4 separate regions of the Homo sapiens genome follow, and all the other regions are linked to region 4. Evidence: fine-mapped expression QTL. A gene starts in region 4. Each other region holds a variant in brackets. All regions are shown on one strand. Distances are between the middles of the regions. Region 1 has its middle 90 kb from the start of FAM110C. Region 2 overlaps SH3YL1 (SH3 and SYLF domain containing 1). Region 3 overlaps LOC105373351 (a long non-coding RNA gene). Region 4 holds the start of SH3YL1 (SH3 and SYLF domain containing 1).

Evidence for each region. PIP is the estimated chance that this variant, and not a neighbour inherited with it, causes the effect.
Region 1: its variant is fine-mapped to the expression of SH3YL1 in tibial nerve (GTEx, PIP 0.96).
Region 2: its variant is fine-mapped to the expression of SH3YL1 in whole blood (TOPMed, PIP 0.99).
Region 3: its variant is fine-mapped to the expression of SH3YL1 in tibial artery (GTEx, PIP 0.95).

Annotation. Positions count from the first base shown.
Region 1 is chr2:131,953-140,062 of GRCh38, forward strand. No RefSeq gene overlaps it. Among named protein-coding and RNA genes, the nearest start is that of FAM110C, 90 kb to the left of the region's middle. The variant G/T (reference allele first, on the strand shown) is at 3,634.
Region 2 is chr2:213,999-222,108 of GRCh38, forward strand. SH3YL1 (SH3 and SYLF domain containing 1) reads right to left here. Exons shown (of 10, transcript NM_015677.4): 10 at 4,146-5,003. The coding sequence ends at 4,813. Among named protein-coding and RNA genes, the nearest start is that of SH3YL1, 46 kb to the right of the region's middle. The variant C/A (reference allele first, on the strand shown) is at 3,760.
Region 3 is chr2:386,274-394,383 of GRCh38, forward strand. It overlaps LOC105373351 (a long non-coding RNA gene), which reads left to right. Exons shown (of 3, transcript XR_922703.3): 3 at 818-1,004. Among named protein-coding and RNA genes, the nearest start is that of LINC01865, 74 kb to the left of the region's middle. RefSeq lists an enhancer at 7,366-8,065. The variant CGT/C (reference allele first, on the strand shown) is at 3,474.
Region 4 is chr2:259,797-267,906 of GRCh38, forward strand. SH3YL1 (SH3 and SYLF domain containing 1) reads right to left here and starts at 4,236. Exons shown (of 10, transcript NM_015677.4): 1 at 4,188-4,236. The coding sequence starts at 4,188. ACP1 (acid phosphatase 1) reads left to right here and starts at 5,151. Exons shown (of 6, transcript NM_004300.4): 1 at 5,151-5,211. The coding sequence starts at 5,169. RefSeq lists silencers at 4,132-4,711, 4,782-4,861 and an enhancer at 5,212-5,261.

The sequences.
Region 1 (8,110 bases), 130 kb before region 4:
GGCAATGCACCTAGTCTGCCTGGACTGAACATCTCACTATGTTTATCTTGTTGAGGAAGATAAATGGGTGTCAACTGGATTGAGGCATTGTTAGACTAGGGACCCCTGAGATGAGGACAGCAAGCAGAAATTGTGCCTCACACTGAGAAGTGCAAAGCGGCAGCAGGGGTTTTTAGTTGATTATGACAGCCATGATGCTTTGTCCTCATTGTAATTATCACAGTAAAGCGTTGCAGTTTCTTTAGTCTTTTGAGGAAGTGAGGGAGTTGAAACTTTCAATATTCATAATGTTGTAAAATCTCAAGTTTCCTATTCATGTATTTTATGTCTAAAATACACAAAACATAAAATACATGAATAGGAAAATCCTACTGTTACTTATTAGCTGTTTGGGGCAAACTTGATGGTGCCGAACAATGGAGGAGTCCATTTCAATCTTGGTTAGCAAGATTTCCCACAGAAAGGGGAGCAGTAACCCTACAGAGAAAAAGCGAGCCTTGAGGAGAGTGGATGGAACGTGCTTGGGATAGAGAGACACAGCTGGGGGCAGCACCTTCATTCACACAGCCAGCCATGGTGCCAGCCAGCACAGTGTGGAAGTAAAGAAATCTACAAGGAGACTCACAACCCAATGAACAGACTTTACTCAAGAGAGATGCCAGGGAGAGACTTTTAGCTCATTAGAAAACCAAATCTGCCAGGCGCGGTGGCTCGTGCCTGTAATCCCAGCACTTTGGGAGGCCAAGGCGAGGGGATCACCTGAAATCAGGAGTTCGAGACCAGCCTGACCAACATGGAGAAACCTCATCTCTACTAAAACTACAAAATTAGCTGGGCATGGTGGCACATGTCTGTAATCCCAGCTACTCAGGAGGCTGAGGCAGGTGAATCACACGAACCCAGGAGTCAGAGGTTGCAGTGAGCCAAGATCGCCCCATTGCACTCCAGCCTGGGCAACAAGAGTGAAACTCCATCTCATTCCTGAGCCAATCAGAGTAATAATTCCATGCCTTCTCATTTTGGTGGAAATCTAAAGTGGTTTGGATTTGATATAAAAACAGAAGATTTAACATTCCTATTCTTAACTCTTTCTACTTCCAAGTCCTTGAAATTATAGAAAAGATGTAATAAAATGATAATAATTAATGGCTGGGCATGATGACTCACATCTGTAACCCCAGGACTTTAGGAGGCTAAGGCAGGAGGATCACTTGAGCCCAGGACTTTGAGACCAGCTTGGGCAATACAGTGAGACCTTGTTTCTCCAAAAAGTTTTAAAAATTATCCTGGCATGGTGGCGTATGCCTGTAGTCCCAACCGCACAGGAGGCTTAGGTGGGAGGATCCACTGAACTCAGGAGGTGGTGGATGCAGTGAGCTGAGATCACTCAGTGCACTCCAGCCTGGGCAACAGGGTGAGACACTGTCACAAAAAAGGAAAAAAAAAAAAGACAAGAAAGAATGTAATCAGCAAAAAATTAGAAGAATTTCTGAAAGATAAAAAGCACACAGCATTTGATTTTAAAAGAAATATAGTGTAAGGAAAGAACAACTAAACAAAATGGATGTATCTTGTGATCCAAGGATTCCTACTCTTAGATATACCTACAAGAAAAGCACATATGCTGATGGCTCTATTATTAGAAACAGCAAAAATAGAAACCATTCAAATGTCCATTAACAGTGGAATGGAAAAATTATTATAAATTTGCACAGTAGAATACCGTACAAATGTTACTGGGAGGGGTGCAGGGTCTGTGGCTCTTGCCTTCTTGGAAGAAAGAATTCAGCCAAGAGATGCACAGCAAGGGTTAAGCAGCAGAGTTTCTTGAGGGAAGATAGAGGACAGTTCAAGAAGGGAGTGGGCTGGCCTGACTGGAAAGCAGCGGCAGCAGCGAGGTTTATTTAAAGGGAGAGCACACACTGAATGACAAGGCAGAGCAGGTTGCTGGAGAGAGGGAGTGAGCCAGCAGCAGCCAGTGCTGGGGACTCTCTTTATGAGGATCTTACATGATTATTCATGAAGGGATGTGAGGGGCTGTCACTTGCAATCATGTATTAGGTGGTTCCACATGCTCTATGGCTGTACATGCTAGTACACACATGAAATGTCTCATTAGCATTTAAAACCTCCACCTAGGGGTGTGTTTTTTATAATTGTAATGGGCAAAGTCTACTGCAGGGTGAGTTACTGGAGGAGTGAGCATGCTTGCCAATGGGAAAAGTCTCTACCATGGTTGTCTCCAGCTAGAGCCTGAGGAGTCCCCCTTAGGGCTGGAGGAACCCAACCACAACATAAAAGTAGCCAGTGTAAACTACTACCACACACAACAACGTGGCTGAATCTCACAAAAGTAAGATTGAGGGAAACCAGTCAGGAAAGAAAGGACAATTATGATTCCATTTATACACAGTGCAAAAACTTGGCAGCACTAATATATTCTAACCGGAATGGTATTGTCTTCAGGAAACTGGAAGTGTGGGAGGTAACTGTGAAGAGGAAAAATAGGGTTTCTGGGTACTGGGAAATATTCTGTTTCTTGATCTTGGTTGTACTTAAAGATGTTTCACTTAGTGATATTTCACTGAGCTGTACACTCAGCGTAATATGATTTGTGCGTGTCATATGTGTATATTATACTTCAATAAAAATAGCATTTAAAAAACACAACTCTGAACAGCACAACTGATTGGATATAGAGAGTGATTAGTAACCTGAAAGATTTTGGTTGAGAGGAAAGATTATCCAGAAAGCAGTGCAAACAGATGGAAAGGATGAGAAAAAAGTGTAAAGCCAGTACGTAAAGATGCAGTAATTCTACATAAAAAAAAGATTTCTAGGAAACGTGGGAAAGTGAATTTAATCTAATATTGCTGAGGCATGTTAAAGGGTGTGATTAATCGTATGTGCTAAATCACTCATTGGAAGTACTAGTAAAGAATTAGTTGGAAAATAATTGCAAAGTAAGCTCAATGGAATTATTGGTGCAAACTGAATATCTTCTGACTGTTTACTAAAAGAAGGGTGATGTATAACAACCGTAGGTTTTATTCATATAAATGAGCTGAAAATTCACAGTAGCTTTGTAACTACTTGCTGGATAACTGCATACATTCAGGGATTTTTTTCCCCAATAATAAAAACTTTTACTCATAATCACCAAAACTTAGATGGAACCAAGATGTCCTTCAGTAGATTAATGGATAAATATACTGTGGTACATCCAGACAATGGAATATTGTTCATCAGTAAAAAGGAAGGAGCTATCGAGCTATGGAGGAAACTTACATGCTACTACATGAAAGAAGCCAATCTGAAAAGGCTACATGTTGTAGAATTCCAACTCTGTGACACTCTGGAAAATGCAAAACTATGGAGACTGTGAAAATATCAGTGGTTTCTAGAAATTGGGTGAAGGCGGGGATGAATAGGCCGAGTGCAGAGGATTTTTAGGGCAGTGAAACTATTCCATATGATGCTATGATGGTGGAAACGTGTCATCGTACATGTGTCAAAACACATAGAATACACAGTAACAAGAATGAGCACTAATATAAACTATGGACTTTAGGTGATTAATGAGGTGGCAATGCAGGCTCATCAATTGTAAGAAAATGCACCACTCTAGTGGGT[G/T]ATGTTGATAATGGGGGTGGGAGTGTTACACACAGGTGGGGCTAAGAGTATATGGGACATCTCTGTACCTTCTGCTCAATTTTGCTGTGAACCTAAAACTGCTCTAAGAAATAAAGCCTACTGATATGGTTTGAATCTCTGTCCCCACCCAAAACTCACATTGAATTGTAATCCCCAGTGTGGGAGGTAGGGCCTGGTGGAAGGTGATCGGATCATGGGGACGGCGTTCTCATGAATGGTTTAGTACATCCCCTTGGTACTGTACAGTGAGTGAGTTCTCATGAGATCTGGTTATTTAAAAGTGTTTAGCACCCTCCTCCCTTCCTCCTGCTCTGCCATGTAGATGTGCCTGCTTCCTCTTCACCTTCTGCCATGACTAGAAGCTTCTTGAGTCCTCCCCAGATGCCACTGTGCTTCCTGTACAGCCTGCAGAACCGTGAGCCAATTAAATCTCTTCTTTACAGACTGGGCGTGGTGGCTCACACCTGTAATCCCAGCACTTTGGGAGGCTGAGGCAGGCGAATCACTTGAGGCCAGGAGTTCAAGACCAGCCTGGACATCATGGCAAAACCCCGTCTCTACTAAAAACACTAAAATTAACCAGGTGTAGTGGCGCACGCCTTTAGCTATTTGAGTGGCTGAGGCATGAGAATCTCTTGAACCTGGGAAGTGAAGGCTGCAGTGAGCTATGATGCTGAGATCACACCACTGAACTCCAGCCTGGGCAACACAGCTAGACTGTTTCAAAAAAAAGAAAAAAAATCTTCTTTATAAATTACCCAGTTTCAGGTATTTCTTTATAGCAATGTGAGCATGGACTAATAGTCTACTAAAAAGAAAAAAGGTTATTCTACACAAAGTGGTATGTTCCTCTGGGTAGAGATTTCCCTTTTTTTCCTCCCAAAAATTTGGTTATAAGGATGGGATCCCTCAACTAAGCCCTCCACTGGGCACATTTCTTGGAGTATTTGTAGCCATCTTTAATCAAATAAGGGACTATTTGCTAAAAAGTGTTTCTTCAACTACTTTGGTTCAGTGGAATTGGGTTCCCAGGGAAAATCCCAAACTCTCACTAGAAGTTTTGAGTTACCATTGAGTAAAATTGGTAATGTGGCTGAAAGGCCCTGTGTGGTTTGCTGTTGGCTTTAATGGTAAAATGTTCTGAAAACTCTGGAATGCTGTCAGCGGGTCCCTCTCCTGGAAGGCGTGCTTCACTCTGCCATGCCGGGCTCCAGGAGGATAACTGCTTGCTGCTCCAGCAACTCAGGCTGCTTGCTGTGCCTGGAATGCTCAGCATGAGGGGCCACCGAGGGCAGTTCCTGAAGCCTCTCCACTGAAGGTGGACTGGGAGAAGCCACAGTGCCACGCTTCTTAGCCACATGAGGCCCGTGAGTTTTCACCAGCTGTTCACCTTTCCTAAGTCCAAGGCATGTCTCAGGGGGTCCGGGCTCCTGATCCTCTCCACTTCTGTGGCAGCTTTGTTGCAGAGAATTCAAGAGAGCAAATAAGGGAAAATGTAGTTGGGTGGCAAGAATAATTTCTCACGTTTTGAGGGAAGTAGCCCAAGTTTGGGAAAATATGGAGAAAGATAAAGAAGACAAAAAAATAGCCCTTAAGATTTCCCAGTTAGAATTATTCACAAAGGGAATAAACCCTTATCTGGGGCCACCACCAGACAAGAAGGAACCCCGTAATGGAAAGTCAATATGTTACTGTTGTAAGAAATCAGGACAGTGGAGGAAAAATGAATGCTAAACGAGGGTCAAGAAGAGTTGAGAGATACAAGCTAACTCTAAAGCTTTACCGTCATCTCCAAGAGATTTTTGCCTAAGGAAATTGGACAAAAAGTAATTGGAAAATTGTGGAAAGTAACCTCAGAGCTGAGGGTGGGAGGCATTTATGTGTCTCTTTCTTTTCCCACTTTAAGCTTGTCCTGATCTTTCTTGTGAACACTGAAGGCACACACTCCACAATTTCTACAGACGGTTATCATTTTACGTCAACCTAGGAAAACATCCAACTTTTGGGTACCTCTAGACAACCTTCTCCCTGTTCTTTCTTCTCTGAGGTTTCTCAACAAGTAGATTCTCCATACTGTAGATGGAGTGTTTTCAGAGCTCCCAGGAGGCAAGGAGTTGGTAAATAAGCACTTTCTAAAATAAAAGAACTATCATTATCTATTTGTTCATCAAATAGATACTTAGGTTTTTCCCATATCTTGACTATTGTGAATAATGCTGCAATGAACTGAGACTGCCGACATTTTCACAAGGTCACTTTCTCTGACTATATGCCCAGAGGAGAGATTGCTAGGCCATAATGTAGTTCTTTTTAAAATTTCCTTAGGAGCCTCCATACTGTTTTGCATAATGGCTGTGGCAATCTACATTTCCACTAACAGAGTACAAGCATCCCCTTTTCTACATACCCTCACCAACACTTATTATCTCCTGACTTTTTGATAGTAGCCATGCTTACAGATGTGAGACATTTCACAGTGGCTTTAATTCACATTTTCCTGGTGACTGATAACATTGAGCACATTTTCATATACCTGTTGGCCACTTTTAACGTCTTCTTTGGAGAAGTGGCTATGTAGGTCCCTTGTCCATTTTTTTAATTCGGTTGTTTGTTTTTTTAATATGGAATTGTATGAGTTCTTTATAAATATTGGATTTTGTTTCCAAATCTGTAGGTTGCCATTTTATTTTGTTGATTGTGTTTTTTGCTGTTCAGCCTTTAAAAAGAAGGAGATCTTGCCATTTGCCACAACATGCATGAACCTGGAGGACACTATGCAAAGTGAAACAAGCCAGACAAAGAATGAAAAATATTCCATGATCTCACTTACATATTGAATCTTTTAAAAAAACAGGTAAACAAAGACAGCGAATGAAACAGGGTTACCAGGGGGACTGGAGAGGGTGGGGGATGGGAAGATATAGGTCAGAAGGTACAAAGTAGCAGGTGTGTGGGATAAACAAGTCCAGAGATCTCATGTACAACATGAGGACTAGTGTTAAAAAAAATTGTGCTGTATTTGGAATTCCTGATAAATGAGTTGATTTTAGTTGCTATTACCACAAAACAAAAACAAAAACAAAAATGGGTAACTATGTGAGATGATGGATGTGTTAATCTGCTTCACTATAATAACCATTTTACTGTATATATGTATATATATGTATCTTAAAGCATCATGTTTTACATCTTAAATATACACAATAAAATTTATTTTAAAAATTAAAATAAAATAAAAGCATCTCAAATTAGAAGGGCTCAAGGAACAAATAATATGGGTTAGTAAAAGAAATTGAATCCTGCTCTGGTTTGAATGTTTGTGTCCCCTTCAAAATGTGTGTTGAAGCTTCATTTCCGATGTCGAGGTTTTAAGAGGCGGGACCTTTAGGAGGTGATGAGGTGATAAGGCTCCTCCCTCACGATAGAATTAAGGCCCTTGTGAAAGAAGCTTCACACAGCATTCCACCTTTTTGCCCTTCTGGCCCTACCACCATGTGAGGATGAAGCACTCGTCCCCTCTGAGGACACAGCGCTTGTCATGGTGCCACCTTGGAAGCAGAGAGCAGTTTCACCAGGTTCTGACCTTGCCAAGCCTTGATCTCAGACTCCCAGTCTCCAGGACTGTGAGAAATAAATTCCTACTATTTATAAATTACCAAGGTTCAGGTATTTGGTTATAGCAGCACAAACAGATGGAGATCATCCCCTTTTCACAGCTTAAAACAAAACAAAAACATTATGGACATGTGTAAATCAACATCCTCTCATTCTAGCTCAAATACAAGGAATAAAAAACTCAGAGAGTTAGAAAAACAGAGCATAGTCAAGAGAGGCGCATTTTCCTTTTTATATTCCCAAATTACCTGGGAAAAAGAATGAAAACTGGGCAAGAAATTGCCCGTAGATTTGTACAAGCTCTGCGAGAAATACGTGAGGTTGAGGCTGCTCTGATTCCTATTGTTCCATATGGGGCTGCATTCTGCGTCTTTTCTGTACTTTTCACTGAGGTACCAGGCTCTTCTTTGAGTGCCCCTGGAATCTTCTTTCTTCCGCATTTGTGGTGACGGATCCTCAGATTTGCCTGCTATACTTTCTAGACATTCACAAGAGAACTAAGAGAACTTTTCCCCACCTTTAATTCATACTAATTCAACATGTGAGCGATTTATTAATAGCTGTTAACACTGTATGTGCTTACAAACAAGATACTTTCAATTTAATAAAAATTTTGCTTCTCTAAATAAATTGCAGTATTATCAAAGTGAAGTCAGGAATTTGGGACATTTGTTTTAGGCTGGCAGATGAAAACCGGTTCTATCCTGAAGTCAGCCTATCTTAAGCACACACTATCTAACACATATACACAAACTCTGCCAGTTTGGGGGTTGTTTGGGGGTTCAGACTACGGGTCCTTTCCTATTCTGAAAAAGCTAAGCCTCTTGCTATGATGTCACAT
Region 2 (8,110 bases), 46 kb before region 4:
TGGGCATCAAGCTCGCGTGGAAACGTTCGTGTTACCCAGGGAAGAATTAGGAGCACGCACAAAGCGGGGACGCTCGGCCTCCTTCCCCCCGAGGCCCCTGGGAATCCCAGCATGTGGGTGCTTTACAGACGAGGCTGGGGTTGAGGCAGCGTGAATCTCCCCGTTTGCGCAGCGGGAGCCGAACGGGCCTCGGACTGACCGCTCCAGATCCCGTGGTCCGCCCACGACGCCACGCCAAAAGTAAGCGGGAAACTGACTCAAGGCCGGGATTCACATTTCAGACTTTTCGGAAGTGTGGACCGCCCAACACACTCTCTGTAGCAGTGGATTTAAAACTGCCCCATTTCCAGGCAGCGTATCTGACGTTTGCTGTGCAAAGTCAGTGGCTCTTCGGAGAGCGCATAGTGCAGCTGCTCGGCCTGCGCTGGGCTGCCCCTGCCAACAGGCACCGGGCTGCCCCTGCCAACAGGCACCGGGCTGCCCCTGCCAACAGGCACCGGGCTGCCCCTGCCAACAGGCACCGGGCTGCCCCTGCCAACAGGCACCGGGCTGCCCCTGCCAACAGACACCGGGCTGCTTCTGCCAACAGGCACCGGGCTGCTCGGCCTGCACTGAGCTGCCCCTGCGAACAGGCACCGGGCTGCTCCTGCTAACAACAGCTTTCCTCTGTTGGAGATGTCAGAAAATCCCTGTGGCCTCATTTTAACTTTCTTGGAAGCAGTTAGGAAATACCACATTTAAACAAAATTAAGACATCTGTGGAAGGAAGTGGTTTGGTGATATTAGAAACATTTGGGGAGTCGTTGTTAAAATTTAATCGGCATCTTTGTGAACGTCCGTGGCTCTGCCCCACTGCACTCCAGCCTGGGCCACAGAGCAAGACTCCATCTCAAAAAAAAAAAAAAAATGGGGTTTGAATTTTGTCAGATGCCTCTTCAGGATAGATGGGGATGATCTTATTTTTATTGTGAGACCATTTAAGAGGATGAGTGATCATAGATGTCCTAATACTGAACAAGCCTAGAGTTTACACCTGGTCTCTATCACGTCACTGTGTTGCTAGGATTTTTGTAACAATGTTTAGGAATGAGATTGGACTTTTGTTTTTTAAAAGATTTAATCTGAGATGTGTTTTGTTATTAGTAGTAGGCTCAGATCATTGAAGTATTTGGAAATTATTTTGCTATCCTCTGAAACAATTTTAATATTACGAAGCTGACTTTTTATATTTTTGAATTTAATTGAAAAGGATTAAGCAACATAGTCATTTCTATTTTATTTGATTAGGATTTTTTGTGTGTTGTGTGTGTATACACACAAACTCACTCTACACACACACACACACACACACACACATATATACCCTGAGTTACTAAGAGTTTGAAGTTTTCAAGCTAGTACGGATTTTCTTATTTGTAGTACAGAGCCAGGAAATGTTATCTATACTATTTCTTATCATGGCATAAAAGAAGTTTTCTTTGTGGCATTATGGTCAACTTTTGGGAGTGTTCTGTGGATACTTGATATAAATAGGCAGTCTAATTTCAGGGTACAGTCTCAAATCATTAGATACCTTTTATTTTTATATAGTATATATATTTATGTTTTTATATGCTTGATCTACAGTATGCTGAGGGGTGTGTTAATCTGTTTTTTTAATATTTCTTTGTTTGTCTAATATACTTTAGCTTGCTAAATATTAACAGGCCCACTGACAGCCACATGCATTATGTATTTGTTTTAGATTTATTAAATTTAACATCATAAGATGTGCCCTTGTCAACCTTGGCAGTCAAGCTCTTCCTTCAACCTCTGGCGCCTGGCAAATATTTATCTGCTTTTCATTATTATAATTTTGCCTTTTCAACAATTTTATGTAAGTGGATTTATGTCTTCAGTGTCTGACTTCCGACACGAAGCAAAATGCTCTGAAGATGCACCATGTTGTTGATGTATCAAGATCCATTCCTTATGCTGAGTAGTGTTCCACGGTATAGATGGAACATGATGCTTTTCATCCACTCAACAGATGATGGACATTTGGAGTGTTTCCAGTCTGGGGTCATTATGAATCAAGCTCTTATGAACATCATATAATACTTTATGTGGACATGTATTGTTATTTCTCCTGGACAAATACCCAGGAATGAAATCTCTGGGCTAGAAGTTAAACTGCCACACCAAAGTAACCATGCAATTTTGCATTTCCAGCCACACTGCATGGGAGTTTCCAGAGCTCCATATCCTCATTCACACTTGATAGCGTCAGTTGTTTTCATTTTAGCCATTTAGAGGTTGGTGGCAACATCTCACTCTCAGTTCCCGTTTGCTTTCCTTAATTGTTAAAGATAATTGGGCATCTTTTCCTGTCCTTACTTGGTATCCGTATATTTTCATTGGTGAAATCAATGAAATCTTTGGTCCATTTTTTGATTGTTATCATTTTAGTGATTTATAACAGTTCTCATCTACATTTAAAAATTGATATTTAATAGATGTACATGTTTTTGATATACATGTGATAATCTGATGCATTTGTATAATCAAATCAGGGTCACTGGGATATTCAACACCTTGAATATTTATCTTTCCTTTATACTAAGAACATTCAAATTATTCTCTTCTAGCTGTTTTGAAATGTATAATCCATTAATGTCAACTGTAGTCACCCTAATGATCTATAAGACACCTGGTCTTATTTTTTTCTAAGTGTGCATTTTTACCCATTAATCAACCTCTCATCTACTTCTTAGATTTATCTTTGCAGTTTTTGGCAGTTTTATAATGATGTGCCCATATGTGACTCTCCTTGTGTTTATTCTGCTTGTTCATAGTATTCTGCTTGTTCATGTGTTTATTCTGTTTGTTCATAGTAATTCTGAAATCTGTAGCTCAACGTCTTTTTAAAGTTTTGGAATATGCTCTGGCATTCTATCTTCATGTAGAGCATCTGCCTGATTTTTCTCTCCACTTTTTGACCAGAACCTTCGCTACTCATTTTCTGTACCTTCTTGCCTTATCCCAGTTTCTTTTGGTTTTTCTAGTATTTTCAGTCAACTCTCAGTCTGGATGTATGTTTCTGATCTGCTTTCAGGTCAATGATTCTTTTTTCTGCTGTGTCTAAATGATTGTTAAATCCATTTATTATCTTCTTAAGTTTATTTTACTTTTCAGTCTCATGTTTTTCATTTAGTTCCCTCTTATAGTGTCAAATTTCTGCTGAAGTTCTCCACCTTTTAATTCGTTGAACGTATAGAGCATAGTTTCTTTACAATAAGTCCATTGTAAATGAGTGAATTTATTGTATCTTCTATAAGTTTAAAACTTTAAATTTTGTAAGTTTAAATGCATGGAAGGAAATACCATATAGTGCTTAAGGACACAAACATACGTAGTAAAAATGTAAAGAAAATTATGGAATTAAAAACAGCAGACTCAGGGTGATGATTCCCTTTGAGACAGCAGTGATTGGAAAGGGCTTAGAAAGTAGGAAATAACTGTTTTGCTTCTCTCTGGGTGAAGATAACATGTGTCTTCATTCTCCTTCTCCATGTCTTAAGAAGGTATAATCAATAAAAAGGCAAATGCACGGGTGTGTGTATGACGTAAGGCAGTGAGGAGCAAATAGCAGGACAAACAGTGCAATGTGCACCTGCTCCTCTCAGGAGGGTTTGCTGGGTGAAGCCAGGGCTGAAGCAAGGAGTCTACGCGGGAGCTGGGGCTGAGCGGGCAGCTCGCTTCAGGGTGGGCATGGGGGAG[C/A]GCAAATATTGGGTCAGCGAGTGTCTGAAAGGCAACAGAATCTCTGGTGGATTTAATAGAGGGCATGAGATAGAAGAACGAAAGTTGGCTCTGAAGTCACCCTGAGGACCAAGGAAATCCAAGGATGGAATTTCCATTTACTGAAGAGGAACACTGTGGGAGGGGCAGGCTAAGTGAGGAGAAAGAAGAGCTTGGATTTGAGCCCGTGAAGGCTGAGGTGTTGTTCCTTGTCCAAACGGAGCTGTAAAGTGCATAGCTGGAGAGGGGAGTCTAGAGTTCAGGAAGGAGCTCAGGCAGCCCAGAACGGAGGTGGATTTCACCCTGCATATGAGACATAGGACTTCTGCCTACCTTACAAAAAAAATAAGAAAAACAAAATTGAAATATTAACTTAGTAAACATTTAAAAATTTTATTTAGAGACAAGTCTACCATGTCACCGTAAGTTTATGCTACTGCTGGAAATGAACAAATGTAGCCCCATAAGGAAGAAAAGTTGAGAGATGCCATATGTTTAAAGACATGGTAGTCAGACTTCTTTGTAATCACATTTCTATGATAAATGCATAGTATAATTTTTGAAGGTATAAAGACAATTTCTAAGGATTTATATTCTAGTTAATACCTACGACTCTAAACATTACTTAATACCTCATTTAAGCTGATTTCTTTTTCTCTAGTCACTTTGCAAATGGAAATGTAAGAATTGAAATTTGTGGCTCTACCCTCAAGATTCTCAAATTAAAACACAGCTACCATATACATGGCCAGATCAAATGCTTAGCGATGTTTGAAGTGTTCACAAGAGAACTATGAGCGTATAAACTGTATGATATTCTATGACACAGTAAGTGTGATAAAGTTAGTACAAAGTATTTAAAGATATGTCAGTCAGCTCTTTTTATATAGAAAAACAAAATCTTTTACATACGGAATGGAAATTTTGTAGAACAGAAGTTTTTTAAAATTTATATTAAACATTGCTTAACTAGTAAATCCTGTCAGTGTAGAAATAATTTTTTTGTAATTCTCAAAGAAGAAAATAGTATACGCTTTAATTCATGGTTACGTAGTTGGCTGGAAAAATGCCAGTTTGACCTCGAAGTTTTCCTTCCCACCAATCAAAATGTGAATCTGTTTTTGATATAACTGTGATTCTGTCTCCAGCTTGAAAATTCAAATCCCCAGGCTGCTGTCCTTCAAATGAATACAGCGCTGTCACTTCTATGGGTTGATTCAAATTGCCTGAAACAAGAAAAAAGTATTCACGTTTATGTTCTTTAAGGGAGAAATTGGGGGTATCTGCTGGTAAGATAAAAATTAACCACTTAGGGCTTGGCATGCTGATGTCTTGGAGGCTGGCAGAAACCACAACAGTCTGTGTAATTTTCATCACATTATTAAACTTATTTTTCTCTGCACATTCTATACCTAAGGATTTAGCACATGCTTCTGGTTACAATCGTCTAAATTTTGAATAATCTATGAGATAATACAACTTACATTTTTTCTATTTTAATATAGTCATTGCTGTGGTCTGAATGTCTGTGTCCCCCTGAGATTCAAGTGTTGAAATCCTCAACCCCAAGGTGATGGTGTTAGAAGTGGGGTCTCTGGGGGCTGATTAGGTCATTACGTTTCCCCCTCATGAATGGGATCAGTGTCTTACAGACAGAGCCTGAGGGGAGCTTCTTGCACCTTCCTCCTTGTGAGGACACAGCCAGATGGCACCATCTCTGAGGCAGAAACCGAGACCTTGCCAGACACTGAGTCTCCTGGAACCTTGATCTTGGAATCCAGCCTCCAGAAGCGTGAGAAATAAAATTCCATTGTCTATGAGCTGCCCAGACTATGGTGTTTTGTTACAGCAGCTGGAAGGGGCCAAGATAGTGTGACAGTTTCATGGATGGCAGATGCTGGAGAAAGGCAGATATGTGAGCTTATATCAAACCCTAGGAGATTCAACTTTAAAACCTGGCTCTTTACTCACTGGGCTTGAAGATTGCAGCCCAGTTATATTTTGCTGTTTCCTCAGCAGACATTTCTTCTCCCTGGGCTTTGTGGCTGTTTACATTTCTGTGCTTAATTGATCCATCCTCTCAATATCAGAGATAAGTTGGAATTAGCACAGGTAGGAGCATTTCTACATGTTTCACAAGTACTTCAATGCAATGTGTATATCCATGTATTGCAGAAGGAAGAAAATACTTTGAGAACTGAGCAGTTAACATGAATAAAGGACATTAAATATTATAAACCACATAACATCATAAAAATATAATTAAACAGTTTTTGAGCACTCAGCTACATGGAGTCTGATGCTTCTATGCTTCATATAATTCTGTGCATAAATTAGGCAACTAGATGTACAGACATACAGAAAACATCAATAACCAGACTCTAGAGCCAGGTCCTATTTGAACCCATAATACAATAATAATAATAATAATAATAATAAAGTGAATTTGGTCCACCCATAAGAAATAAAAATAGTCAACACTTTAAACTACTCTGACTAAAACACTGAATTTGTAGCTCTCACAAGATGGTGCTACCATTCTTTCTTTAAAGTATGTGCCATTTAGTTGAGTTCTAAAGAAATAATCCTAATAATAATTACACTAGAGATAATACTGGTATAACTACTTTTTTCTATAATAAAAAGAATTTCTGTATATTTTATTTTGTCCTATATTTACTTTTAGTTAACAATTTTAAGGAATAAGGATAAAAGAATGTCACCAAAATAAAATTTTGACATAGTCTAGAAACAACAGAAGTTAAGTTAAACGTTCTAAGTACACGATTAAATTCTACACGTTAATGAGCAGTCGCTGCCATGCACTGTGAAAGGAGCTGTGCTCTGCCCTGGGTGGGGTACCGGGCAGGCGCTCACGCCGTGCTTCCCTGTCATCAGATCAGGATGCAAGCTAATGCTAAAGAAAAATCCATCCTGGAAATCTCTTATTCATGATTATATTTAGGATATCCACATATAAAGCTGAATCTTAATTAACCAGAACAAATCAGTGAAGAACCTCCAGGAACTCTGTTCTCCTCCCTCTTGTCTCCCAGACACGTTAGATAATAGGAAGAAGTGAATTAAAAGAGTGCTTGTGAACATCAGGGAATGTTCTGGGAGCCACAGCCATCTTAGCTACCATGCATTTATACACTTGCAGTCTCATTTATAAAATCAAAAATGCATAATAAGGACGACAACAATGATAACAGCAATCGATGTGCATCTGGGAAGAGCAGCCACCGCGAACTGCTCAGGCACACACATGTGCTCCTCTTACACCGCCCACTGCAATGAGCCAGCTACTCCTATCCCACATCACAGAATTTGAAACTGAGCTTCAGAGATAACAAGTAATTTGTCCAAGGTCAGGAATGAAGCTTGTCTCCAGGTCATCCAAGACCCTCAACAACCTCATAAATATGAAATTGTGCTCAACAGACCAAACTGACATTTATCGGAGCATTTTACTTTTATGAGGCAAATGTTCAAGGGGGATTAATGTGGTGACCTGCCTCACTGGGTTTCCAGACTGTACAAATAACAGCATCTGATGCTATGGTTCTGGGTAATCCCTGATAACTGAATTGGTTCTAAGCAGTTTCAGGAATATATTTTATGAGGAATAATTAGAGAAATAAATATATTATGAACTAAGAAAGAGAAAGAAGGCGAGATCACACACCTGGTTTGGTCCCTGCCCTCACAATCAGGTGTTGGTCTAATTTTCTCTGAATTGCAGATTCCAAATGAAATGAGGATAAAGCAGAGTGAGAGAGGAGGGTAGAGGAGCAACGTGGGTGGTTTTCAGGTGCAGCTGAAGGGAAGGCCACCACTGAAGGTCTGAGGGGGCCGGGATCTCACATTTCTCCTTTACTGAGGCTAAGATGTGTGTTGACTGTTCCTTGTGCCCAATTCCTCACCCAATTGACCACAAATGCCTCTGCCTCCTGGGGAGGAGTACAAGAGAGTCAGGAGTTGAGCTGTTGTTGGAGAAACTCCATCCACATGAAAATCACAAGAGTGAGGCCAGCAGATCCAGGAGCCTATCTGCTTTCTCAGATAACAATCCACAAGCCAGTTAGTGCTGTGCCCTGTTAGTTTTTTTCTTTGAAAAACTCCAAATGACTTAAAGTTCCTCTTTAATGTAAATATTAGAGATAATTTTCACAAGGAGAAGTTTAATGCCCACAAAGAATTCACCAATAAAAGGTGAGTCAAGTAATGATTCCTTCCATGAAGAAAAACCTTCCTGGTTACCGGGAAGCAAACCCCACTGAGTTACTAAAAAGCTAGGCATTCACAGATGCCTTTCCTTCTGCACAGCATA
Region 3 (8,110 bases), 130 kb after region 4:
TTCCCTGAGAGGAGGTGGGACCACAGGGCTGGGCAGAGAGGGATATATTTGCTCCGTGCAGTCGTCATAGGAAAAAGAAGCAATGTCTCCTAATTTTGACAGACACAAGGCTCACTGGATTCAGAACAGCAGCTCTCAGAGCTGGACCTGTTCCCTTTTCTGAACTTCAGTTTTATTCTTATATTAAATTCTTCAGCAATACCTTTACCTTGACAAGAACGAATCATTAGAACATGTCTCCTCATGGCTGACCTCATGAGAGGAGATTTGAGGGCTTTGTGCTTGAGGCCCCAGGTCCCCCATGCTGTGCCCAACTCCTCCCCATTCCCTGGCTCCCCTTCCATGGGGGGCGGTTCAGACTCCTGTCCTCTGTCCTGGGGTGGCTCTGAGTGGCCTTCACTCCATCCTGCAAATCAGCAAGAGGGGTCTCCCTGCAGGCGCCCCACTGCTCACCACTTACCTGAGAGCAGGAGCCAGGTTCTGCCCTCTGCCCGCTCCCGTCTGCCCGCTCCCCTCTCCCCTCTCCCCTCTGCCCGCTCCCCTCTCCCCTCTCCCCTCTGCCCTCTGCCCTCTCCCCTCTGCCCTCTGCCCTCTGCCCTCTCCCCTCTGCCCTCTCCCCTCTGCCCTCTGCCCTCTGCTCTCTGCCCTCTCCCCTCTGCCCTCTGCGCTCTCCCTTCTGTCCTCTCCCCTCTGCCTTCTCCCTCTCCCCTCTCCCCTGTCGCCTCTGCCCTGCTCCCTTCTCTGTCCTGGGCTTCTGCCCCCCTCACCGCTCTCTGCATCCACTCCAGCTTTTCCCCCCTTCACTTTCTCCAAACAGTGATTTTTTGAAACTAATATCAACAAGATCAGGACAACTGCAATCACTTTACCCGACTTGTCAGTTTCCTATTTAGAAAATTCAGACTATGGAGTGGAATTGGCTCCTCATGGGACCCATGGTAAGTTTTTAATTTTTGAATTCACAATCAGATGATTTGGTTAAATTTTACATCCTTGTGTAGCTCCCCTACTCAACATTAACTGTGTATTCCTAGGAGTTTTCAGTAAAATTCAAAATATGTTTAAAAAGAAAAAATTCTAGACCAACTATCACCTACAACTGAATAAAACAAAGTATTTTATTATAGCCAAAGGGTTTTTCTGACTTGTCCAGCACACCAAGGTAATCAGTCAAATTTCTTAATATTTTTCTGTGAATGTCCCTGTCTGAGATGGAGGAAATAGCTGATCATAAGTCTAAATAGCAAGACAACTTCTGGGAGGAAAGCAAAATTAACTTTATGTATATGAAACTGATTTTCAGGAGAAAATGCAGACTCAAAGAAATGTTATTTTCATATTATAAAAACTATACAAAATAGAAAAAAAGATGAAATCACCTTGAACAATACAAACATCATAATTCAACCGTCGCGAATATTTCAGTGTAATTTTTAAATTTCTTCTCTACACTTACATATCTGTATAGTCATCTCTATAACATACAGGCGACTACCTATCTGCTTTTCATGTTTATAACTCGATTATAAGCATAACTCCCTATTGTCACATAGGTGTTAAGCCTTCATTGAGAGGAAGAAGAATCCAAGTTTTTATAATTTTATGGTCGGCTTCCTCATGTATTCTTTGCTTTTCTGTGCTTGACTCCTCCTCACACACTGGCTGCAGCTGGAGGAGACAGAAGCTACTACGAGGATTTCAGGTTCTTTGAGTTTCAGGCGGACTCAGCTTCCAGGGGCGAATACTCCACCTCTTGCAGCTCCTTCTTCCCTGCTGCGGGCGAGAGGGGGTCCTGGGATGGTCTGTGGCTGGCCGTGGAGGCCGGGGTCTGGGCTGGCCGTGGAGGCCGGGATCTGGTCTCTGAAATCTGGTGGCTCCTGGCAGGTGGGCACCATTGGGGGCTGAGCACACTGTGCTCCTGCCACTGCCTCTGGCTGGGGACCCTCTGGAGCAAAGCCTCGACACCCCAGACGGCCTCCTCAGCCACTGCACGTGGTCTCCACTGGAACCCCCTGACTTACTTAGGAATGCTGACTCAGAGGCGGCTGCAGGTCTGAGCCGGGGCTGTGGCTTGGCCGACAGGCACCCACAAGGCACCCGCAGCCGCTCCGAGGCCCTGCTCTGAATGCTCTGCCTTTAGATTCCGTCCTTAGCATCAGGAAAGAAAAGACCCGGCTTGTGAGCTCCTTGTCCCACCTTCTTTCACTCCAGACGTCCATCTCCATCTTTCTCCATCAGGGACTTTCTGGGCAGGACACTTCCTTGATCACATCCCCAGTTTTCCACCCAGGACTTTGTGAAAACTCCTCCAGGCCTGGCTCTTGGTATGTCAAGAGAAGTTTAAGGGATTTAGACAGTACATACATATATGTACACGTGCGTATGTGTGTGTGTGTGTTTAAGGGATTTAGACAGTACATACGTATATGTACACGTGCGTATGTGTGTGTAAGGGATTTAGACAGTACATACGTATATGTACACGTGCGTATGTGTGTGTAAGGGATTTAGACAGTACATACGTATATGTACACGTGCGTATGTGTGTGTGCGTGTTTAGGGGATTTAGACAGTACATACGTATATGTACACGTGCGTATGTGTGTGTGCGTGTTTAAGGGATTTACACAGTACATACGTGTATGTACACGTGCATATGTGTGTGCGCGTGTTTAAGGGATTTAGACAGTACATACGTATATGTACACGTGCATATGTGTGTGCGCGTTTAAGGGATTTAGACAGTACATACGTATATGTACACATGCGTATGTGTGTGTGCGTGTTTAGGGGATTTACACAGTACATACATATATGTACACGTGCGTATGTGTGTGTGCATGTTTAAGGGATTTAGACAGTACATACGTATATGTACACGTGCGTATGTGTGTGCGCGTTTAGGGGATTTAGACAGTACATACGTATATGTACACGTGCGTATGTGTGTGCGCGCGTTTAAGGGATTTAGACAGTACATACGTATATGTACACATGCGTATGTGTGTGTGCGTGTTTAGGGGATTTACACAGTACATACGTATATGTACACGTGTGTATGTGTGTGTGCGTGTTTAAGGGATTTAGACAGTACATACGTATATGTACACATGTGCGTATGTGTGTGCGCGTTTAGGGGATTTAGACAGTACATACGTATATGTACACGTGCGTATGTGTGTGTGCGTGTTTAAGGGATTTAGACAGTACATACGCATATGTACACATGTGTGTACGTGTGTGTGCGTGTTTAAGGGATTTAGACAGTACATACGTATATGTACACATGTGCGTGTGTGTGTGCGTGTTTAAGGGATTTAGACAGTACATACGTATATGTACACATGTGCGTATGTGTGTGTGCGTGTTTAAGGGATTTAGACAGTACATACGTATATGTACACATGCATATGTGTGTGTAAGGGATTTAGACAGTACATACGTATATGTACACGTGTGTGTATGTGTGTGTG[CGT/C]GTTTAAGGGATTTAGACTACATACGTATATGTACACATGTGCATATGTGTGTGTGCGTGTTTAAGGGATTTAGACAATACATACGTATATGTGCACGTGCATATGTGTGTGCGTGTTTAAGGGATTTAGTACATACATATATGTACATGTACGTGTGTGTGTGTAAGGGCTTTAGACAGTACATATGTATATGTACACGTGTGTGTGTTTAAGGGATTTAGACAGTACATACGTATATGTACACATGTGCGTATGTGTGTGTGCGTGTTTAAGGATTTAGACAGTACATACGTATATGTACACATGTGCGTATGTGTGTGTGCGTGTTTAAGGGATTTAGACAGTACATACGTATATGTACACATGCGTATGTGTGTGTAAGGGATTTAAACAGTACATACGTATATGTACACATGTGTGTATGTGTGTGCGTGTTTAAGGGATTTAGACAGTACATATGTATATGCACACATGCGTATGTGTGTGTGCGTGTTTAAGGGATTTAGACAGTATATACGTATATGTACACATGTGCGTATGTGTGTGTGCGTGTTTAAGGGATTTAGACAGTACATACGTATATGTACACATGTGTGTATGTGTGTGTGCATGTTTAAGGGATTTAGACAGTACATACGTATATGTACACGTGTGTGTGCATGTTTAAGGGATTTAGACAGTACATACCTATATGTACACGTGCGTGTGTGTGTGCATGTTTAAGGGATTTAGACAGTACATATGTATATGTACATGTGCTTGTGTGTGTGTGTTTAAGGGATTTAGACAGTACGTATGTATATGTACACGTGTGTGTATGTGTGTGTGGGTGTTCAAGGGATTTAGATAGTACATATGTATGTGTATATGTACATGCGTGTGTATGTGTGTGTGTGAGTTCATACAAGTACTTATTTATCCACTTACTTTTCTCCTTACAGCCATGATTTTACACGTGTTTTGGTGGGAACTCAGTTATCTCGTTCCGTCAGTCAGGGCGGCAGTGATGCCTCTTCCTTTAATTTGCATTTCCACCCTGACAATCACATCTCCCTGAGCAAATGGCTATTTCTGTATGACTAGGGGAAAGATCACATATGAAGGAAAATAAAAGAGAAGAGCACACAATTTAAATAGACCTTTAAGTGATCTCTTTTGCATGGATATTCACTTTGTTTATCATCTTTCCTGGACATGTGTTGGGAATGGGATTAACTGGAGGGTGCAGTACAGAGCAGCATTCCAGAGCCGGCTCTGTGAGGGTTTCAGGCGAGAGCCGGTGCCAGGGCTGCCAGGACTTCCGTGCTTGTCGTCGTGGGGCAGGGATGGATGCCTGATTTCAGACGGAAGAACGCCACTCTCATCAGCAGTGGAACTGAGTCGAGTCCTCAGTGGCCCTGTGGAGTCTTGCAGGTGAATGCTCCAGTAAGCGACGGCCACCCCCGAGGTGTTCCTGAGATGTAGAGATAATTCCAGCTGTGCTGTGTGCTGTCTAACATTTTGGGTTCTCAGTGATGTGGGTGGAGAGATGGTTCCAGCTGCACGGTGTGCCGTCTAACATCCTGGGCTTGTTCCTGGTGTTCTCAGTGATGTGGGTGGAGAGATGGTTCCAGCTGCACTGTGTGCCGTCTAACATTCTGGGCTTGTTCCTGGCGTTCTCGGTGATGTGGATGGAGAGATGGTTCCAGCTGCACTGTGTACCGTCTAACATTCTGGGCTTGTTCCTGGTGTTCTCAGTGATATGGGTGGAGAGATGGTTCCAGCTGCACTGTGTGCCGTCTAACATTCTGGGCTTGTTCCTGGTGTTCTCGGTGATGTGGGTGGAGAGATGGTTCCAGCTGCGCTGTGTGCCGTCTAACATTCTGGGCTTGTTCCTGGTGTTCTCGGTGATGTGGGTGGAGAGATGGTTCCAGCTGCACTGTGTGCCGTCTAACATCCTGGGTTCTCGGTGATGTGGGTGGAGAGATGGTTCCAGCTGCGCTGTATGCTGTCTAACATTCTGGGCTTGTTCCTGGTGTTCTCGATGATGTGCGGCAGAGGGAAGGCCCTCACACTTTGGGGTACTTTTTCTTTAAATTAGAGATGATGATACACAGCTGGGAGGTGGGTGGGAAAGTGGGCGTGGTAGGAGATGAGTCAGGTGAGAGCATTTTGAGACACCCAGGAGCTGTAGAAACCTGAGTTGTTGCTATAGAAGTCCTAGATATCTTCCTGGATAATTCTCTTTCACATAATTGACATAACGCTTCTCTGTCACACCCAGGAAGTCCTGGTATTGTATAGATAAAATCAAAAAGTTATTTCCATTTTACCCAGACCCAGTTTTGAAAGGCCACAGGATGCCAGGATATTCCTTTTTTGTTCCTTTCCTGCTGTGATTACGGATGGGAGGATGGGATTTCAGCTTCACTGTGCTGATGGGCCGTGAAAAAAGAAACATCAGTGACCATCCCCAGAAACAGCGAAGGGGGGTGGGAATCAGTCAGTTAAGAAATCGAGCAAGTGCTCGCCCTGTCTCCACCTCGGTCTCCCACCTGCAGGCGAGAGGCCTATCCGTCCCACCTCTAAGCGTCTGTGACTCTAGGCCAGCAGGGAAGCTCTTGGCATCATGCGTGGCTCCGCTGTCCCTGCCTCCCAGAGCAGGGAGGACGAGGAGCACAGAACAGGGGTCCATCAGGGCTGTGGCTGGTGGAGGTGGGAGGCCCTGGGCTTGGACTCCACAGCCAACCAGGAGCCTGGAGCTCCACACAGCCCGAGTTAGAACCAGGACTGGCAAGAGTCAGACAATCTCCCCAGCATGTCCAGCTTTCAGTTCTGAAGAAACCAACCAACAAAGATACTTGAGCCTTTGCAGTTCCCACGTGCCGGAAAAACTGGTACATGCTTGAGAAGCGTGGATGTACAGAAGAGAAAGCCTCTCGGGTGGGGTCACCGCAAAGAGGAAAGGGCGCACGCAGGTCACTGCAAAGAGGAAAGGGCGCACGCAGGCGCAATGCACAGATCCACGGGCAGCATCTAGACGACGTGCGCTGCTCACAAGGCGAACCTTCGCTCAATGCTCCGGAAGCTGGTTTCCGAATTCACGCCAGCTCACAACTGACCTTCATGCTACACTTTGGGTCCCGTGAGGGCGGCTGCTTCCCCCTGCTCACTCTTGGGCAGCTGGAGCCTAACATAGAACCTGGCATGTGGTAAGCGTGTGCTCAAACTTCACGGCGGGGTGAGGGTGCAGGCATGTGCTTACCACACACTCAAACCTCACGGCAGGCTGAGGATGCAGGCATGTGCTTACCACACACTCAAACCTCACAGGCAGGCTGAGGGTGCAGGCAGGTGCTTACCACACACTCAAACCTCAGGGCGGGCTGAGGATGCAGGCACGTGCTTACCAGGCATTCAAACTTCACGACTGGCTGAGGATGCAGGCAGGTGCTTACTACACACTCAAACTTCACGGTGGGCTGAGGGTGCAGGCACGTGCTTACCAGGTATTCAAACTTCATGGTGGGCTGAGGGTGCAGGCATGTGCTTACCGCACACTCAAACTTCATGGGGGGCTGAGGGTGCAGGCATGTGCGTACCAGGTATTCAAACTTCATGGTGGGCTGAGGGTGCAGGCATGTGCTTACCACGCATTGAAACTTCAGGGCGGGCTGAGGATGCAGGCATGTGCTTACCAGGCACTCAAACTTCACGGCAGGCTGAGGGTGCAGGCATGTGCTTACCAGGCACTCAAACTTCACGGCAGGCTGAGGGTGCAGGCATGTGCTTACCACGCACTCAAACTTCACGGCGGGCTGAGGGTGCAGGCACGAGCTTACCACGCATTGAAACTTCAGGGCGGGCTGAGGATGCAGGCATGTGCTTACCACACACTCAAACTTCACGACAGGCTGAGGGTGCAGGCATGTGCTTACCACGCACTCAAACTTCACGGCGGGCTGAGGGTGCAGGCACGAGCTTACCACACACTCAAACTTCACGGCGGGCTGAGGGTGCAGGCACGAGCTTACCACACACTCAAACTTCACGACAGGCTGAGGGTGCAGGCATGTGCTTACTAGGCAGTCAAACTTCACGGCAGGCTGAAGGTGCCTGCTCCCAAGCGATCTCATGCAGCCTGCACTCAAACTCCACATTCCAAAAGTACCTACTCATCTGCCTAGATGCCTGCAGGGCTGGCTCTGATCTGCTTGTCCTGAAATGTGTTAACTGCCTTTTCATACCTTTTTTCATTGCCATGCCAACTGTGAAAGACTCCAGCCCCTTTCAGATGAGGCCCCCAGCTCGGAGATCCACCCTCCAGGAGGTGCTGGGCAGACGCGTGGGGCGGCCTCCACCTCCGGTTTCCTCCCTGTTGCCTCCCGCAGCCTCTCATTCAGAAAGAAACGTGTTTCCGGAAGCTGTGCCGTTGCCATGGAGCCTGGATGGCTTTGTCAGTTTCCTTATTTGCAGCCTCATCTCATCTCCAGACCCACTGTGCTCCTGGACTCGCTGGCAGTCCCAGCTCTCGCCTTCACTGTGGTCTGTGGACCCCTGCACTGAGCCTCGTGTCCTGTGAAGTCAGGCTCTGAGGGTCTCCACGGCCTCCTCTCACCAGAGACCCCCACATCTGCCGCGAATATAACCTAACA
Region 4 (8,110 bases):
AGAAAAACAAAAATTCATTCACAGCTTTGTGTTACAGAAAGATAAACTCCAAATTCATTGAAGATTTAGAGTGTCAAATATCAAATTATAAAAGAACCAGGAATTATAGAATTTTTTTTCAATTTCATAGTGGAAAAGACCCAAGTATGGCAACAAAATTTCTATATTTCTATATTTTTACATGATCAGCAATTATTTGTACAACGTACAAATACATTGTAAAATACAGGAAAAAGTACAGATATGAAAATATGAAGGATAAAAAGCATCTATAACATTAATACTCACCAATACTACTGTCTGCATTTTGATGTATGCTTCAATTGATTCCTATTGCGAAACATGTAGACTGATTCCACTTTTAGCTTTTATAGCCATTACTATCAGGTGGTAATTATCTTGGGAGAGATGCTCTAGATGCTCAATATGTTTTAATTACATTTATACATATATCTAGATGCTGGATACATTTGAATTAGTTCACTGGAGTGGAAACTTGTTCTTTCTGCTGCTGAATATTTCATCTACTTTATTTCAGAGGCAGCACAACTTGTCTGCTTACATTGATGCTGCAGCCATAGTATCTGGAGTGGATTGGGTGACCCGAGGCTGCTGTATCAGGACGACATTCCTTTTGGTGCCACAGCAGGGCTTTATAACCAAAGCTGGTCCAATACCAGCATCTGATGGGGGACTTGTATAGGAGCTGCCAGAATAACTTTTTCCAAGGCACTTCTGTTTCCACTTGCTGTGGGATTTTTGTCTCCACAAGGGGAGAGTCTGAGAGCAAAGCCTTCATAGGGGAACCTGGCAGAAGGTGGAGAGAGCACCTGGGCTCTGCAAAGCCAGACTGAAGTCACAAGCCGCTCTGGACTTCTTCGTCAAATGGACCAGCAACATCTTTTTCTGTTAAAGCAATTTAGACTAGATTTTCTGATACATGCAACTGAAGCACTGTAAATAATACATGAATCTTATCCCCTCAGAAGACTTTCTACTTTGAACTCTCTCAACCAAGCAGTATTAGAGCAAATAAGCAAATTCCTCAGTTGAGAGTTAATCTTGCAAACATCCTGCTGTAGGGAAAGGTCATGGCCTGATCTGTAAACACGGGAAGAGAGCCATTGGACTTGGGAATCAGATGCAGCCTCACACGGCTGCAGACCGCAAGACTCATCCTAGACACAGCTTATGTCACTGTGATCCAGCTGTTGACAAGGCTGGTCACAGTGAGGACATCTTCAGTGTGTCAGCTGAACTACAGAAAATGTTACAGATTCTAATCAACTTCTGATAAAATCATGCGTGGTCATAGTTACATGCAGTGAATTTCTCTGTCAGAACAAAAAGAATATGCAAATAAAAATTTAGACATAAGCCTCAAATCCCATCCTCAGCATCAAATGATGGCTCACCCATTTTTCCTCTGCTGTACCATAAGGCATATAGAGCATGACCTGATCAGAGTGCTGATGTCCCATTCTATCATACTGATGAAGACACAGGTCATTACTAATGAAGCCTCTTAAACCTCACATCATGGTTAGCATCTGCACTCTCATAAACGTCTTAAGTCCCTTGAATCAGGCAAAATCTCTATAAATATTTAAGTTTTTTCTAAAAAAAGAGTGGCTGCCAAACCTCAAGCTAAGAAACTTTCAAATAAAGTTTTCTTTAAAACAAAAGTTAAAATGTTTTAAATTTTCATAGTAACACATTTTTTTTTTAAATTAGAAGGTCTTATAAAATACCGGAAAGACAATTTTTACTTTGGAAACCTCAAAAGCATAAATCAGCTTAAGATCTGGAAATAATTTTAGGTATTGATCGCAGTTCTATAAACTCAATGCTAGAGTCACTGGGGACAAACAGGGACATGAGAATCCTACTCGGAGTAAATTGCCACCTGAGGTGACAAAGCTGACTACGGTTTCCAATCTAGTTGTACACGGAGGGTCAGGAATGAAAGCAAGAAGACCCAAGGGCCCCTCTCCACCACTTTCCTTACCAGAGTTCAGATTCCCAAACTTTTGCTTCCCTTATATTATTTTCTTCAATGGACTCTAATTATGAAAGGAATACTTACAGGAAAGCAAGCTTACTAAATTTGGTTTTCCAAGTTCTTACTGATTACATATTAATCAAATTATTAAACCTTATACTTTATGTGAAATGGAGGTTAACTCATTAAACTGATAAAATTCCATCTAAGATCAAAGGAACTTGAATGCTGCTAAAGGTATATTTAGAATAAACTAAAGAAATCTTAGCCAAAAGAAAGTGTATGTATCTAATCTTTAGAGAGGCTTTCAAATGTTGCTTTAAGCTACTTTTATTAACAAAACTGCATTTTGAACTCCACTGCTTGACAACTATGGCCTTTGTTTCTTAAGTCAATTCTTACCTTTCTGGGGCCTTGGTTTAACTACTTCCTTTGTTTTAAGGACACAAAGCTTGTCAGTTCTCAAAATAAAAACCTGTCTCTCTGGTCAGATCATTAACTCCCTAGTCAAACTTTCAGACTACCGTCTGAACATCAAGTGCTAGCCTGAGCTTGTTTCCAGTCCCCCAACCCCAGGCTGTGGCTGGGGAAGGAAGAGGACAGCGAAAGCTTTCTCTGCTCCCTCGGGAGACAGGAAAGCCCTTTATTTATTCCTGCCCTTCCTCTTCTCCAACTGAAGAGTGTGATCTTGGTACAGAGCAGTTCCACACATGCCACACTGGTCTGATCTTTTAGAGTAAAAAATGGGATCTTCTCAGAGAAAATTTTTTTAAAAACTTCATGTGCTTAGGTCTCAGAGCAGAGAATTTTGTCTTATCATGACGCCACTCACTGGCAAACAAGCTGGCGTGCACAGGGACTTGTGAGGCTCTCAGCAGAGTCAGGGTAGCAGTTATTTCCCTTTGACTGCCTCAACTTCCTATGTTTGTGTTGACATGCCAGATCCTTATTTCTGCGGAATGAGAAATCTCTTGAGAATAAAGTTTTCCTAAACAGAACAAAAGTATCAAATCACTTTTGATGAGCAAACATTATTTTAAACTTTTTTTTAACTTACAAAAGATGAGGGGTAACATTTACTAGTTTTACAGAAATTTTCTTTAAACAGAACATTAGTGAACCAAATAACCAATTCTCCTCAAACATGATAGACAGGATGGAGGTTATCACTTTGATCATTTTAACCTCCAACATAGTAATTTGTAAACATCAGTCGCTGCACAAGTATTTTAATAACAGGCCAGCCCACGGGAGTAAACAGCACCTTAGCCTCGAGACCTGTTCTCTCAACTGTGTGTACAGATTTTCTAAGTCGTTATGAATTCAGATATTCCCTACATCTCAATAAAAACACCTAGGAGAACAAGAAATCAGGACATGCATCTCCTGTAAGCAGAAGAGAAACCGAGCACCTGCTCTCTTGCGGGGGGGCAGCTTCGTGTCACTTTCCAACTCAGCCTCCACAGGAGCATGGGCATATTGGTTCAAATGAAGTGTAAAGGACACATCTCTGTCCACAGTGTAAATCCTATTTCCTTAAGGTGGTCAACCGATTGAGACCAGTTCCACACTTCCTTAAAGAAGGAAAAACTCAGCAGCCAGCGCCAAGGCCCAGCGATCAGAGAGGACCCGTGCTCGCCGCGACCCCGCGCTCGCCCTGTGGCCCCGCGACCCCGGCGCCAGGTGTTGGGGGGACCGGCCCTTCCCTTCCGGGTGTGAGGGGCTGGCCCTTCTCTTCCAGGTTGGGGGGCTGGCAAACTCGAACCTCGCCGGCGCCCTAGCCAAGGCCTCCTCCCCGCGCCTGCCGCGGGTTCCACGCACATTCCAAGCGCGCGCATTCGACCCAAACTTCAGAGACGCTTCTGTGGAACGGAAGGATGGTCGCTGACACCTCGCCGTTCAAATATCAGGAAGTTAAAAATAACACGACCATCGTCATCATTCCAAACTTCGGAATAGCTTTTCTAAAAATGGAAAAGACGGTGGCTAAACTTCAATCAAAATCGCTGTGGTCAAGAAAGTCCTGGAAGCTGCTCTATCTTAACTTTGGGCGGTTTGCGGTTAACAGACGCGCGACCTAGAAACCCCAGAGGCATCGCCGGTTTTCCCGTCCTCCTCCTCCCACCACCGCCCAGCTCTTGAGAGGGGAGGGTGCTGCCGGACAGGTGGGTCCCCGGGTACTCACTGCTGCCCGCCCGGCCGCGGCGCCCCGTCCCGAGGCTGCCCAGGAAGAGGAAGGCGCGCTGCCCCGCCCCGCGGACAAGGAGGCCCCAGCGAGGGCGTACCTGCGGCAGGTGACGAAGGAGGCGGCGCAAAACACCCGCCGTGTACGTTTCGCGGGACAAAAACCACGCGCCCGCCGGGCCGCGCTCAGGCCTTCGCCCTCAGGGACTTCGGAACCGCCCCGTCCTCAAGATCGAAAAGCCCAGAGCCCCGCGGCGGCTCCAAGCACGGTGTTGGGGGTGGGGGTCTCAGGGAGCGCCCAGGCCCAAGGCCGCCCTGGTCCGGCGTGGACCCCGCGGGGCTCAAGGCAGGTTCCCCGCGTGACCCGCCCAGCCCCTCTATGCGAACTCGAACGACAGGCACCACAGCCCGCCACGTGCGCGAGACTCGCGCTGTGCCCCAACCCAGGTGGGCGGCCCGCGGAGCCGCGAGGCCTGAGCCCGCCCTGCAGGTGACCCGCGGCCCTTCCTCCTCCAGGTACCCCTCTCCTGCGGCCCCGTCCCCTATAGGTAACCTTTACCTCCCGCGGCTCCTTCCCCTCCAAGCGACCCGCAGCCCCGCCCCCTCCAGGTGACTCCCCCCCGCCAACCCCCGCCACCACACACACACACCCCCTCGCCTTCCGCGGCCCTACTCCCTCCAGGTGACCCCACCCCCGCAGCTCCTCCTCCTCCGGACAACCTGCAGCCCCGCCCCTGCAGGTGAACGGCGGCCCAGTCCCTGCAGGTGACCCGCGGACCCTCCCCGCCCGTCCTACTACCGTCATAGGACCGCCTCCGCAGGCGCACTGGAGCCGATTGCGCAGGCGTGGCTCTCACACGCGCTGCCCTGTTGGCGTTGGTGCGGGACTGCGCAGGCGCGCGGGGCAAGAGGGTGGCAGTGCGCCTGCGCCGCGTCGGCGTGCGGAACGCCGCGGTGTCTCGGCGCCTCTGCGCGCGGGAAGATGGCGGAACAGGCTACCAAGTCCGTGCTGTTTGTGTGTCTGGGTAAGAGGGCGCCGACTTACTCATGTTCTGACGTCCTCTGGAGAGTTGGATCGGGCTTGTGCGCTGTAGGTTGTGCCGCCGGCCTAGGAACCATGAGGGGGAGGAGGCCAGGGACTGGGAGGCCTAGGGTGTTCTAGGAGTGTGCCGCAGCGCCCCTGTTCCCCATCCGCCCCGTGCACCCGCCCAGCCTGCCCGCTAAACCTGGGTCCCCTCGCGCCTGCCATATATCCGGGGCTCTTGGCATCTGCAGCCACAGCCCCTACAAGCCAAGGTACTTTCTTTGCGACTACTAGAATCCCTCTCGTTCCCCTCCAATGGGCCCAGGTAGGCCTGGAGGTTGTCGGACTGATGTGGTCTCTTAGGGGCCTCCTGAGTCCTATGACAACATTGTTTTGTTTGCTAGTTTCCTTAGCCCATGCTTAGATAGGGATCTGAGTTAAAGGGAGATGAAGTTTTACGGTTTCGGGTTTCTTGATTGTAAAAGCCAAGCAAAGGAGACCTGGAGGTCCCTATATAACTTTGGCCCATGAAAAATGAAAGTGTATTTTATTAATGGCTTTTCAGGAACTTTCCAGCTTAAATTATTTTCACTCCTAGAATTTCAACACTTAGCTTGCCTTACTTCAAACATAATTTATTTTCCGTTTGGTCTTCAGGGATCTTCCTTTGGTGTAGCACTACAAGGTTATATTCCTCGGTGCCTCCACCCTGAGAGGAAGGCCTAAATTGTCAGTAGTCCGGTTACTTAAAACCTTCTGTGAGTTTGCATTTCCTGCAGTTTCTGTTTATTTTTACAGACTCCTCACTTTATCTCCTGTACCTTTTCCTGCTCACACCCTCGGGACACTGCCTTCCAGAACCTTTCGTTGTTCGGTAGCACTTCACATGCTTACTGAGCCTTCATCGCTGGGTGCCCATTATGCATTTTGCCTGGAAAGCCTTTTTATTTTATAAAGTCAAACCTAAATATTTCCTCCTTTGCTTTCCCAGATCATGAGTTGCTTCCTTATCGACATCTTTTATTACACAAATTTTACTATAATTTGTGTAATATAGTAAAAGATGTAATACAGAAAAGGTGTGATTCCTTATCGACATCTTTTATTACACAAATTTTACTATAATTATTTGATAGTCTGTTGAAATCCCAGCTGAGTTTAATTTTGTCGATGGCAATAACTGTGGCTTATTTTTCATTTTGTTTTCAGCTTTAGGACAATATATGATAAACGCTGACTAGGTTTTGTAGAAGTTAACTTCTGTGAAAGACGAATTAGAAGGCTTACCTTGTTTCACATTGGTAGTGGGCATCATTTGATTTTTAAGACTCATTGAAGGCTGAATGATGAAATCAATAAGTTTATTAAACAGTAGTTTGGTTAAGGATGGTTACTAAATAATATTCCATTCCCTTGTATAGTTTTGGTTGGTATTGTCGATTATGCTGGCATAATGCATCATGGTTGCTGTTAATGGGGAAGTGTATCCTTGCATATACAGTAGTCCCACTTTAGCTGTAGGGGATACATTCCAAGACTCCCCAGTGGATCCCGAAACTGTGGGTAGTACCAAACCCAATTGCTGTCAATTGGAACATGTGTCTGCTCGTTTCTTACACCCACAAATGTAATACCGTTGCCACCTTAACTAAGCATTTAAAACTGTGGTCGCAACTTTTGCAGTTTGAGGCAAGACAGCAGACGATCAGGAATTTCTTTTTCCTTGTTTACATTTTCATGGATAGAAGATTTGTTCGTACTGTAGATCTTAGTAACCTCGGTATAAGTTTTTTTTTTCTTTCCATAAGAAGTCAAAAACTTTCACCTTTTTACTTAAGGGTAGTGCTTATGGCTTCTCTTTGCCGTATCTGAATTGCTAGCTTCACTACTCTTATGATTTCGGGCCATTATTAGTAAACTAAGGGTGACTCGAACTCAGGCACTGTGATAGCATCACAATGGATCTGATAAGCTAGAGGGCAATAGGTGGATAGACAGCATGGATATGCTGGACAAAGACGTGTTTCACTTCTGGGGCAGGACGGAATGGGATGGCATGAGAATTTATCCTGCTACTCAGAACAGTGCACAATTTAAAACTTAGGAATTATTTGTGGAATTCTTCATTTAATATTTTCCAACTGAAGCTGACCATGGGGTAACCATGGAAAGCAAAACCTTGGAAAAGAGGGGACTATTGTATTTCAATACAATTCAGTGATTTTTTGTTGTTGTTGAGCATCTACTATATGGCATGCATTCCTCTAAGTGGTGTGGTGAACACAACAGACAAAAATCCCAGCCTCTCTGGAGCTCACGTTCTCTCAGTCACCAGCAAGTATTAATTGATGTGCTCAATCGGTTGATGTGAAGATTAAGAAAAATAGAGCAGAAAAGGGGAATGGGAGTGGAGTGCAGTTTTGAGTGGGATGGTCAGGGAAGGCCCCACCTGATAGATGACTTTTGAGTAAAGACTTGAAGGAGGTGAGGAAGCAAGCCTAGGATATTTTGGAGAAGCATCCTGAACCCAGAGGAAAGCAGGTAAAAGTTTTGAAGGGAGAATACTGGCCATGGTCATGAACCGCAGGGAAGCTGCAGTGGCTGGGCCTAGTGGCCAGATAGTTTTTCTCAGTCAGGATTCCTCATCTATACCTGAAAATTTAGCAGATAATTTGAGCGCCTGTTTTCTCAGTGCTTCCATTGTAGATGTATAGGGAGAAGTTAATTCCTTATATACACTGGTCCTTTAGGGCAGGAGTCTGCAAACTCTTTGTTTAAAGAACCAGATTATAATTATTTTAGATTGGCTTCACATGACATACAGAAAGGGTGTAGCACAAAGTAGCCATCCATATGATGAACCTGGCTGTGTTCTAGTGGATCTTCATTTGTGGACATCA